Linked DNA regions of Homo sapiens: all the other regions are linked to region 2. Evidence: fine-mapped expression QTL. A gene starts in region 2. Each other region holds a variant in brackets. All regions are shown on one strand. Distances are from middle to middle. Region 1 overlaps GNG2 (G protein subunit gamma 2). Region 2 holds the start of GNG2 (G protein subunit gamma 2). Region 3 overlaps GNG2 (G protein subunit gamma 2).

Evidence for each region. PIP is the estimated chance that this variant, and not a neighbour inherited with it, causes the effect. A credible set is the group of variants that fine-mapping cannot tell apart.
Region 1: its variant is the best candidate, but not a certain one, in a credible set for the expression of GNG2 in monocytes after LPS (Quach 2016, PIP 0.55).
Region 3: its variant is the best candidate, but not a certain one, in a credible set for the expression of GNG2 in whole blood (TOPMed, PIP 0.74).

The regions. Positions count from the first base shown.
Region 1 is chr14:51,911,633-51,915,875 of GRCh38, forward strand. All of the region lies in intron 2 of GNG2 (G protein subunit gamma 2), which reads left to right. Among named protein-coding and RNA genes, the nearest start is that of GNG2, 53 kb to the left of the region's middle. The variant T/G (reference allele first, on the strand shown) is at 2,185.
Region 2 is chr14:51,858,667-51,862,909 of GRCh38, forward strand. GNG2 (G protein subunit gamma 2) reads left to right here and starts at 1,946. Exons shown (of 4, transcript NM_053064.5): 1 at 1,946-2,124. RefSeq lists a silencer at 1,433-1,512 and enhancers at 1,565-2,066, 1,853-2,062.
Region 3 is chr14:51,966,354-51,970,596 of GRCh38, forward strand. It overlaps GNG2 (G protein subunit gamma 2), which reads left to right. Exons shown (of 4, transcript NM_053064.5): 4 at 206-3,442. The coding sequence ends at 334. Among named protein-coding and RNA genes, the nearest start is that of RTRAF, 21 kb to the right of the region's middle. The variant G/C (reference allele first, on the strand shown) is at 1,975.

The DNA of each region.
Region 1 (4,243 bases), 53 kb after region 2:
TCTTGGGCTCATGTAATCCTCCCACCTCAGCCTCCTGGGTAGCTAAGACTACAGGTGTATGCCACCAAGCCTGGCTAATTTTTTAAAAAAACATTTATAGAGACAGGGTCTCACTATATTTCCCAGACCGGTCTCCAAACTCCTAGCCTCCAGTGATCTGCCTACTTTGGCCTCCCAAAGCACTGGGATTACAGGCGTGAGCCACCATGCCCATCCTGATAGCCTTTTCTTATGTTTTTTTTTTTTGTTGTTATTGTTAGATTAAAGGAGTTGAATCATGAAAAGGGCTTTATATAAAGTAATTGCTTAGTAAATGAAAAAAAGTATAGCTAATAGTGTCAGGCACTGTTCTAGGTACTTTACATATATTATTTACTCTTCACAAGCTCCCAGGAAATATGTGGTGGTGTTATCATCCCCACTTTCAAGATGAGGAAATGGAGGCACACAGGTTAAGTAACTTGCCCAGCATCACCTATTGAGTAAATGGCAGAACTGAGACTCAAACTTGGGCAGTGTGGCCCAGAGCCCAAGCTCTTGACCACTTTGCTGCACTGCCTCTCAGCCATATATAAATGTTAGCTTTCATTATTCTTGGGAGATGGGGAAGAAAGAATGGGGGAGATATAGTAAGAATGGCCAGAAAAGGAAGAGAGCACTAAGATTCCCTTGTACCTTAGGCAGGACTGTGAGCTGCTCCCATCTTCTATCCCCACACCCCAACCCCCAAAATCCCTTAATTCCAGTGGCTCAGCCTAAATACTGAATGTGTCCTGATAATGTTACACCCTCACTGATTCCAGTTAGGTGAGGAAGAGACTGTCACTTCCTGCTGTTGCTACGGCTGCCCTGGTTGGTGAAGGTTGAGCAGAGGTCTTTCCAGAGATGCCTAACACCATCTCCAGGACAAAACTCCTCTGTGGGTGGAGTCCTGTCCACTTTCATTACTGCTGGGCTTCTTCAGACAAACCAGAAGTGCCCAGGGGTAAAATTCCCAAAACAATTGCATAATTGACCAAGTCTGACATTCTCGAGAGAGCTATTCCCTACAAGGTTACCAGCCTGGATGCTTTCTTCTAAGATGTCAGTGATTCTAATATGAGGCCAAAGGCCCCACACAGGTGAACAACATTGTGTGGGCAGTCCTTATAAAAACCTTACATCAGATATTATGCTGCAACGTGTATTTCAGCTACTGGCTTGGTTTTGGGGGTGGGGGTGGGGGTGTGTGTGTGTATGTGTGTGTTTTGTTTCTTTGAGGTGGAAGATAGCCCAAGAAAAATGAAAACAAATGTTTAAGTAAAACTGCTGAAGCTCACTAAATCGGCTAGAAATTAATTAATTGAACCTGTAAGCTTATGTTTCTGCTTTCAAAGGGATGATACTGTGAAGTGTTCAGGAATGAAGTCTCGTGATGTCTGCTACCTAGTTTCAAATGGCAGGAGAGACAGAGGGATGGGGAAGCAAAAGTGACCATTGTTAACTCTAGGTGGTTGGTAAGTGGGTGTTCCTTGTTTTATTCTTTCACCTGTAATGTATGTTTATGTTTTTTAAAAGTTAATAAGTTGGAGGATGATAGAAGCATTAAAAAGTAGGCCGGGTATGGTGGCTCATGCCTGTAATACCAACACTTTGGGAAACTGAGGCAGTAAGCTCCCTTGGGGCCAGGAGTTTGAGACCAGCACAGGAAACATGGCAAGACCTCCTTTCTCAAAAATTTTTAAAAAAGAAAATTAGCCAGTGTGGTGGCTTGTGCCTGTAGTCCCAACTACTTGGGAGGATGAGGCAGAAAGCTTGCTTGAGCCCGGGAGTTAGAGGTTACAGTGAGTTAAGGTCGTATCACTGCACTCCAGTCTGGGTGACAGAGTGAGACCCTGTCTCTAAAAATAAACAAATAAGTTTATGGGGGAGAGCGGAAAGAACAGGTGCCATGGGATCATAGGATGAGAGGGCAGTACAGGATGAATGGTCCTTTCCCCCATTGTCATCACCTTTGAGATCAGGGAAGAAGCAGAGATGTAGAGAGGAGGTCTAGAGGTTGTATGGAGGAGCAACTGATCAAAAAGCTGTGCTCTAGATAAAGGAATAAGCACAGAGCTCTTAGTACTGCTGTAAAACTAGAAGTTACTGTGGGAGTGGAGGTGACATCCTTTAAGTTACATTTACAAGTTCTATTATTAGGAT[T/G]AAAGTACTCTATATTCTCCCTTAAAACTGACCACCAACAATGAAAATGTTGCATGTATATAATTTATGCATATGTTGCATATATAATGTATGCATAAAAGTTACATATATCCAAATACCTTTTTCATACATATGTTTCATTTCATATATATGAAAAACAATGGGAAGAATATCACTAAAATTTTATCTGTAGGTAAGAATTTCCATGTGTGCTTAAAACTGGGAGTCACTGTATCCAATATAAAGTTCAAGGTGTTTTGTTTGCTTGCTTGCCTTTTTATCTACTTTTGCAGAAGATATTGAAATTGCAATCATCTTGTTTTTGGGGGAATGGAGTCATTCCATATTGGCTCTTGAGTATGTCTGCCACCACTCTGATTCTAGCTGGAGGCTGCCAGAAATGACTGTGCCATTGAATGGAGTTATTAGGCAACATAAAACGGACAAGCCAGACCAAGGTAGAATGGAAAAGGACTGCCGTCTCAGGCCATTTCATTATGTCTGAAAGAAAAACTGATGAAGAAACACAGGCCACAGTAACCATAGCTCCTGCTCTAATCCTTTCTCCCTGAATCTTCTTGAAGGATCCTTGTGCTAAGGTTCCCAAGGTGCGGGAGGGATTAGAATGAATGCTGTTTTGGCACGAGGTTTGGTAAATCATCTTGGGTGTTAAGTCCCGTGTAGAATTACCTAATAGTAATGAGGTGTCGGCAGTTTTGTATCTATTTAAAGCTTTAACTAGACCACATGAGTAATGTGCTTTCAGGTGCTTATCTCTAATTAATTAATTCATTTGTAAGTGAAATACCTAATTAAAGCAGTCTAAGGGAGCTCCTTTGCGGCCTGGATCTGGTAGATCCGGTAACAAAGAGAGGTCTTTGCTGATGCAACTTGTTGAACTGATCCTCATGGGCTATTAGCTTCATCAGATTTCATTTGAAGAGTTCTTTATGTTTTTTTGTGTTTTCAAATGTAATACAGACCAAATACTGGTCTTTGATGCTGACGAGAGTCACTCACTTACGCATAACTTTGGAAGAAACCTGAAGATGGTACGATTGGGGTCTCAATTGGGGGGAAATGGACAAAGATGATACATGCCCTGCCATCATGCCTTTCTGTCATGTACACTGTCATCAGGCAAGGCCAAAAAGCCTGTCACTCCATGACTGCTTGCTTGAGTTTAAAAGTTCAGGGTCATTTCTTTCTACTTAGGCATTTGCTTTGCCTTTACTTTATCAGAAAACTATGTAACCCAAAGTATTTACCATTTCACTTCAGCTACTAAGAGATGTTGGCCACGTTTAGAGCTTAAGTGTATGAATCAATTCAGTTGTCTCTTCCCTGTACTCCCACTAACCTTCTTTGTTCTTTTCTTAGAATAAGGGCATCATCCTTAAAGGTAAAAAGCCAAGGCCTTCTGTGAAGGGCAGTTTACTGGTTCATAGATAAGGATGGCAGCTTTGGATTGAGAAACTTCTATTTTGTCATATTACACCTCTGCTACATTATGAGGGAGAGGATGCATTTCAGTGTAATAATTATGACTAACTTATAATGTGTTTTGCTTCTTGTAAACTGTTACTGCCCTAAATAGGATGAATGGAACAAAGAGCATAAATGAATTCACAAAAGACACCTAAGCTGCTCTGAGGATATGGGAGGGACTTAAAGAGGCAGCAAGGAAACAAATCGAATTTGGGGTAAATGGAAAATTAGGGAGGGGAAATGGGTAAATATGATACGTTAGAAGCCATCCGTTCTCTTTTATAAAGTGACTTTTTATTTAAAAGAAGAAACAAAAGTCTTCCTCTGAATTTCAGCCCAGCCCTTAAACGATTTCCCCACAACAGAAAATTGGTATTTTTCTAAAATATTTTGTGACTAAATGCTATTTGGAAAAAAAAGTGGTATTTCTTTAAATTAGTGCTTTGAAAGGAACACATACTTAGCCTGAATCACTTTTGCCTACATATGTGAATTATGGGTCTGTGTTTAGAACTTAGGAAACAGCTGCTGTACTCTGTTCCCAGACAAAGACACACTGCAGAATGCTACA
Region 2 (4,243 bases):
TTCTTAGACTTGGCATCATGCATATTTAAATTTACATTTAAAAGTTCCTGGTAACCTTTGGCACAAGGGTTCCTGGTTTGGAGATAACTCACATGTTGGTGGATTCATGCCCAATCCCTCTCACTACTGCATTTCTATCTGCTGGTGGATCAAAGCTAGTTGCTCATTTTCAATCTTAAATCAATCCATTTTGTAATTTTCAGGTGTGAGTGAGTTGACATCAGGGTCCTTTTTGATGAAAGATTTCCTTGAAAAAATAAGCAAACTGTTCAAATCAAAACAAAGGGTGTTTTGGGACTGTCTCAGAACATTTCATAGAAATTAAATTCTGTACCTTCTAGGTTAACGTGCTGTGGTCCTCACGATGTGTTTGGAAGGCTCAACTGGAGAGTTATTCTCCATCAGTCCTAGATTTCTAACATTTCCTGTTAGTTTACTTGCTGGAGGATTAAGGCAAAACTGGATTAAAAAGGAGGAGTTGGGGAATTAACTGTTTCCTGGCAAGATTAGCTTTCCAGGCACTGATTCCTGAGAAGAGGTGTTTTTTGTTGTTGTTGTTTTTGTTTTTAACTCCATAATGTTGCCTGGACACTAGAACAGGATTCCCCTTCCCCCATCTCATGTTTAATCTGTAGCTTCCCCAAAGTACCTTGTGTTAGTACTAGGGGGAGAATGACTCACACGTTGAATAAATTGTTATTAAAGCATCTGGGCTCAATTGTGAACATACTAATAGTGAGGAATTGGAAAACCAAGTACTGGTGAGGGTTCGGCTGCTGACTGGCGAAATCACTTGCTGAATGTGAGGCCCAACATCCTCTAAAAATAATAAGAGTTAATATGTGCCGAATACGTCCTATATCCCCAGAACTATTATTAGCACCTTGTATACCATCTCATTTAATCCTCATATTTCCAATGTAGAGCATGACTATCATCAACTATGTTTTGCAGATGAGGAAACTGAGGCACATAGATGTTAAATAATTTGCCCAAGTTCATACAGTCATTAATGGCAATTTGGATTGAAATTCTGGCAGACAGAGACAGCTTGCAGGCTCTACCCTGGTGGGTTCTACGATATTACCTCCTAAGATGAAGGGAAGGGACTGGAGGATCATGAGGGTCCTTCAGCCCTACTAGTGTGTGTGGAATGGGGAGAGGAGTATTCAGTTTCTCTGTTGGGAATGTGCAGCATTCAGCACCACCTCATTCCTTCCCATCTATGAGAATCTTTTGGGAATAGTCCTCACTATTAGGCCTATAGGTAGCATTGCCAACTTGGTTTAGTTCCCGTGCCCCATAAGAATACTTATCAGGGCCATTCTTTTCTGAGCATGTGGGTTAAGTAAGATCTCAGTGGTAGTGGGACCTTGGAGAAATGAAGCCTCTGAAATGTTGGCCACAGAGAAAAATGCTGCAGTGAGAAGCTGCAAGCTGCAAGCTGCAAGCTCCCAGCTAGCTGGCTTGATGGGGACCACAGTAAATCAGGAGGAACAGTGGAGGCTGGTGTGGGATCTCGGGGGCCAGAACCTGGCCAGGGGATGTTGACCCAAAAAAAAACAGCAGCAGCAGTAGAAACAACAACAGCAAGAACAACAATAGCAACAAGCCAGGTTCAGGCTAAAAAAGCAGGCAGTGTGCCAGGAAGGGGGCCGACTGAGCAGTGTGTGGAAGCTGTCGTGGAGGTGACCGTGGGGGGATGAGAAAAGGGGAAGGAAGGAACAGACAGCACCAGAGGGACTTGAACAAAGGGAGAAGGGGGATTAAAGTCAAATCACTGTCAGCAGCCCAGGAGCAGACAAAACCACCAGAGTAAGCCCTGAAATGGAAATGAGAGGGAAAAGAAGCAAGCCGCTAACAGCTACCAAGAAGAGGAGGAAGTGGGAGATGCGCTGCTTCCTGTAGAAAGAACGTTGATTGAAGACAAAGCTGGGTGGGGACTAGTCCCTGGGCTGCAGCCGCTGCTACACATACTCACAACGCTGCCGCCGCGCTCCGTGGGCAACTCCTACTACTGCTGGGCTGGGCTGGGCTGGGCTGGGCTGCGCCGGAGCTCGCCTGCACAGATCAGCTCCGGAGAGGGGAAAACCACGCTCCTCGGACCAAGCCTCGGGAGCTAAGGTAAATGAAACGTTTTCCATGTTGCTCGTTTTTAATTGAGAAAAACGACCGTCGCTTGTGGTTTTAAGGTCCGATTTCTAAGGGATGATAGAGACATCGCTTCAGGACTAGGGGAAATGATTAGATTCTTTTGGAAGGGTCTTTGAGAATAACCACATTTATGACACATTTGATTTAAAAAAACCTCATCATCAGTGCTTAGATTTGATGACTAAACAGGCCAACATGCTAAATACAAGAAGCTGTTTGTATAGTTCTCTCGGAGGAAAACCAGGGCTGAGTCGAAATCCATCTGGGGCTGTGAAGCTGTGGTCTGGTCATCGGAGCCCGGCAGTCCCCTTGTTTTAGGGGAGTGAGTGGTGTAAAATATTAATTGCATTCTCTTTCTTACACATTGCACTGGGATATCTTCTGTTTTGCAAAAATAATGGCTGTGATTTGGCTTTTGGGGGAGTTAAATTCTTTTGTACTTAGATTTTGCCAACAAAGGCTTGAATTGCGTATGTGAGGGGCAGTATTTACCATTAAAAAACAGTGTCTTCCTCCCTCAGCTTGTGCAGCTGCTTTCAGGATAACCTCAGACACAGCTATCATTTGCCAGTAGGTCTTATCCTAAAGTTGCATCCTTGTTCAAAGGAGCGTGGCGGGTTTAAGGCCAGTAACTTGTCCAGAATCAGATACTAGCATATGCATGGATTTTATGTTTATATGCATTTTATTCACCTCTAGGTCAAGGTGCATGTTAGCCTCGGTGAGGGACAAAATAAAAAAGTGCAGCTGGGTTGTTTCCTTACGCGAATATCTGGTAGATAGACTGAAGTAGTAAAACCAGAACATGATTTTTATTCTTTGATTTTCTTGAGCAAAGGATGTTCTTAATGAGAGCCTGGGTCTATGACTTGTTCATATTTATGAATGATATGTAAAAGTACACTAAATAGGTCTAGCAGATGAGAACTGAGATTGTGAGATTCCTCTGACAGGATATATTAGGGAGTTTAATACCCTCATGCAGCACGATTTAAAGAATTAAGCTTTTTTAATCTTCAACAGAAAGTACAGTTAAGCAGTAAGTAGTCATTGATAAAAGGGTTTTTCTTCTAGAGTTTCTATAATGAAAGGAGATAATTTTTCAAAAGAAAGAGAAAAAACTGCTTATAGTGGAGTAAAAATTTAAAAAAAGTCAATATTTTGACACTCACAGATTCTTGAAACATAGGTTCTTAGATACCAAATATGCTAGTTGAGAGTGTATGTATGTATATGCCTCCTCCTTTATCATCGTTCTCACTTGTTAAGAGCTATAGGGCTATTTTTAATGCTATCTTTATGAAATCGATATGGCTTCTCAAAATCTGTGGAGTAGCAGCACATTTTGAGAGATGGGAAGCTTTTATAGCTACTAAAGAAAAAAAAAGTCTATTTCTCAGAGGTTTTTTGCTCATTAAAGTAAACCTGCACCATGCCTAAGAGACAAAGTACTGCTAGTATTGAAACCATGGAACTCCTTGAAGGATTCACTGAATTTAATCAAACTTGTGGGCAAAACAAGTCGTGACATGGATTTTGCAGTTCCACTTCCTATTTGCATCTTAAAGGGAAGTATGTAAAGATCATCTTCTTAGAGAAGAGACCTAGGATAGATCTTCGATCCAGAATGACCCAGTGGAGTTCTAGAATCAAGCTGTGCATCATGAAATGAAGTAAAAAGTTGGCAACCTGAGCTGCATGGATAAGGACAGGCTTACCCTTTGGTACTTACTCCTCTGCAGGCTGTATTCACTAGATAATGCCAACACCCTACTTTGTTTGGGGAGGCACAGACAATCTGCATTAGTCTTCTGTGTGTGTTTCACACATGAGTAAGAAAATGAAACCTTGCCCGACGGGCATAGTAGAGTCAAGAGGGCCTTGCTATCTTTCTGAAAACAACTAAGAGGTGCCTATTTTCTGCACAGCACAAAACATTTCTTAATCGTTAAATTCCAGCTTGAAGCAGAACATTAGTGAGTAACAGCAGATCAGTAACTATGATGGTAGAATGTTTAGGAAAAAGATGAATATGCTTCTACATTGTAAAATGAAACTATTTCCACTTATTCTGGCCATATGGAATATT
Region 3 (4,243 bases), 110 kb after region 2:
CTAGTCCCAGACTTGCTGGCAACAATCCTGTAAGGTCAGTGTCGTCAACTTTCTTCTTTGCAGATGAGGAAGCAGAAGCTTTTAGAGGCTGAGTATCTTGCTTCATGGAGCAAGGATTTGATGCCAGGACATTGGGCTCTAAAGCCTTGGGCCTTGACTGACTGTACCAGACTCCAGTGTTGGTTGTTTTTGTCTCCCTTTCCAGGTGTCCAAGGCAGCTGCAGATTTGATGGCCTACTGTGAAGCACATGCCAAGGAAGACCCCCTCCTGACCCCTGTTCCGGCTTCAGAAAACCCGTTTAGGGAGAAGAAGTTTTTCTGTGCCATCCTTTAAGTCTTTGAGAGGGGCCTGAAGAGCCTCCGGGCTCCTGGGACATTGATGTAGAGTTTTTAGTGAAGTGGGCACCTTTCTAGTCCACGGCATTTGAAGAGAGCGAGGAGAACCATTCTGGAAACTCTAGGCTATGCATGTTTAAAGATCTGGTCCCCTTTATGAGAATGCAAGCCGATCCACATCCTGACTTAAGAGATCTGATTCTGACGAACTGCCTGGAGGAGGGGAATATATAAAAATAAAATTGGTGTCACTTCTTTTCTGCTATCCCCCAGCCCCCCCCCCAAAATCCTCATGTTTCTGCTTCATATTTTGAAAAATAACAATTAAAACAGACAGCTGTACTGAGGTAAGATATGTGTGACCTTCTTGGAATGAATATTGTCTTTAGAATACCCTTTGATAAGCTGAGCTGTCCCGTGTAGATGCAATTCGGTTTAATGGCATTGATGTATAGTCACTGTGCCTTTCTTTTTCTTTCTTCCTTCTCCTCTACCCCTCCTTCCACCCCTCCCCATTAGAGTAGTGTGGAGATAAGGCTGGACTGGTCTATCAGATTGAACTCCAAGAATGATCACACAAAATGTTTAGGGAGATGTTCCCCGTGGTGTATCCTCATGGTAACAACGACAAAAAATGCCGGTTGTCTGTGTTCTCTTTTCACTATTCCTAACATGTGTACATGATAGCTTTGATTCTGCAAGTAAAAGTAAATCCTGTGTTGTGACTGGTGCTTTCATATATTTGTGACAATTTTTGAGTAATATTGCATGAAAATGTCCCTATGTTACATCCATTCAGAAGTTTTGTTGTTTTACTCTAAAGCTGGGAAAGGAAATGAGAGGGAAAAGACCCCGGAGAGGGAAGAAAATCTCAGTATTTTGAAAATTGAGATTACTTCAGAGCCTTAGCCACACCTAAAATACCTCCTAGTTAATAGTGGTATAAATGCCTCTTCAATACGTTTTCCAGAATCCAAAGCATTTTGGTTTATCCAGGACCCAGGGCAGCACAGCTGTCACCAAGCAGGAGAGTTAAGGATTCACCATGAGCTGGGAAATGCTTTTGCCATGAGTATGAGCAAATTCCCTCTTTCCCTGAATCATGGACATTCTAGATTAAAAGAACATTTTTTTGTGCTCTTAACAAGAAAACCATGGCCCTCCTTTGTTCAAGTATCAGAAGAAATAAACCCACAGCTCCAGAGAAGGTGACCATTCTCAGAACTCCAGCTATTCACTCTCCAGGGAGAAGGACCTCAAATCGCCACTCTTTGGGCGGCAGGTGCGGTCCCCACGGCCGGCTCTACGAGGAAGAGTTCTGGCTCTTTTGTCCACTGAGATGGTCTTGGTTTTTCACTTAACAAATTTTTTAATGGAATCTTTGTTTTTGTTCTCCATCTTGTTTGTTAGAGTCTCTCGGCCTTTATTTACAAATTCCTTGCAACTAGAGCGCTCCTTCCCCAAGATATGGTAGTGAGAGTAATTTTTCATTGTAGCTGTAGTCTCCATCAGTAACAGCAGGCCCTGGAAGACTTGATCACCTTTTTCTGTGTCATTTTCAGTCAAAGAGGGCCTCTCTTACATCTTGTTTGCTTTCAAATCCCCAAATATCATCTCCATCTCCCAATTAATTTTATT[G/C]TCTCTTTCCTCTCTATTCGCTTTCTCCTGTTTTTTTTTTAAAAAAAAAGCATGAAAAAGGAAGAGAAAAAGTTTGATATGCCAAGGACAGATTTTGAAACAGACTTGGTAAATGTTTTCCTTAGCTCCTTCATGGGCATGCTGGTGAAAGAATAAATACATCCAATTAAAGCTCATGCTGGGGTCGGGGAGAAGAGGATACTGAAACATTTGTGAAATGTATGAATGCACTTCTGTAACCAGATACTTCTGTTCTTCTGTTCAAATTGTGGGGTTTTTGTTACAGTTAGGACGCCCATGAAGATTTAGGGGTGAAAAAAACAGCAGAGTATTTATTAAACTACAGCATTGTACAATTAGCTTAGTAACACTATGGAATAAGCTAAAACATATCACAGTTTTTACATGGGCCAAAACATGAATTGAGTATGTGGTCACATGAAAACACGGATGAATGAATAAAACACTCTTTGGTGGTGACTGAGGCATCATTAGAAGGCCCAGACGATTTCCACTATTCACAGCATTTCCTTTTCTCAGAAGGACTCTTTATATTTCCATGTAAATCTAGATCTTTGGAGCAATTAAGATGGAATTACAATTTCTAGGGAGCATTTTAAGGAAAATGTTTTGGCTTTTTCATAATTTTATGTCTTACAGTATGGAATTATAATACGAAAATCTTTATATGAGTTTTGGCTTCTTGGTATTTGTACTTATTCAGGGGAAAAAGTCTTTCGATTACTTATGCCTCTATAGAGCTTAATTTCTTGAGAAATTCAACAGTCATTTTCACCAGCATAATTTTATCTTAAGGAATAACTAATAGGAAAAGTCAGCTTAATTATTTAAGGCCCTAGTTTCTACATATAATATATTCGATAGAAATGAAAATCTGCCGTGGAATTAACTAATAAGTAGTAACAATAAACTTCATATTTAGAATGCAAAGTCTATAAAGAATAATTTTACATGATCCTCAATATCAACTCCAGTTTAAAAAGTGTTATTTTTAAAACATTTGAAACCAAGTACTGTTTAATTTCAATCAGAAGATGCAAATACATACTTTGATCTATGTTTGATTTTGCTAATAATATTTGAAGGAGATTGCCTACCAAGGACAAAACAATAAATTTAAAAATCAAACGATTTCTCCATACGCTCATAGTCACATATGGAATTTTGAGAAAATAAAGCATGCTGTCTTTAGGAATTTTTATACTTCTTTGTCTTTCTTCCTTAATATTTGCTTCTAGCTGCTCTTGGCAATGATGAATTGTTATGTATGCATTAATGTTTTGCAGCCCAAAAGTTGTTCACATTTTTCCTATATAAGATCTGTGGAGTGTGTGTTTCAAAGAGAGAACTACAGAAATGTTAAAGCAGGAAAACCTGAATGTGATGTGCACATTTTCATCCCACATGGACAATGTATGTGTTTTAATAAATGGAATTTTCAGATTCATTTCATATGCAGTCAATTTCATTGTGACGGCCACTGATTCTGTGGTCAATTTGAGAAGGATCTGATGGTATGAATGGATGAGGAAATAGGAATCCATTGATTTTCTTTAGGATTTTGTTAATAGAGATGTCCGAAAGAAGAAAAAACTCACTTGACACTCTAAAAGCATTTCTTACTAGGTCTGTACATCTTGGGTACAGCCTTTGGGGACAGAGAAAGGTGGGGGCTGTGAGGAGAGCCCAGGGCTCTGATAGGGTGGAGTATGCAGACAGAGGAGCTGTATTTACACTTTCACTTGCTGCAGGTATGCCACAGTGGGCTTTTTCCCTTATGAAAAATAAAGACTGAACAACAGAAGTGCTGTTCTCTGTAGCTATCTGTGATTTAAAAGGAGTACAGGAGAAGCTAAGTCCTTAGAACTCTAGATGCAGCTGCTCCTTGGAGATCTTCTTAGTCGAGAAAGACTTCTGAATGTTCCTCAGATTATGCCAGTAACAGACCCTGTTAGTAAAGAAGGAAACACTGGATCTCCTGGGACTTGTGCCAGCAACAGCAGCATCTTTAAACCACGGATGAAGGGGGCCACTTGGAGTTTGCACACTAGTGCTCCACTGACATCAGTGTTTCTCAGACTGTGGTCCATGGACCACTTGCTCCAGGAGTATTAATACCTGGAATGCCTCTTTACAAAGCGGATCCTGAGCTACCCACGAACTCAGAATCCCTGGCAGTGACTCAAGAACGTGCATTCTGTTACATGCTATAGTCTGAGGACCACTACAGTATTTATGACAGCTAGCT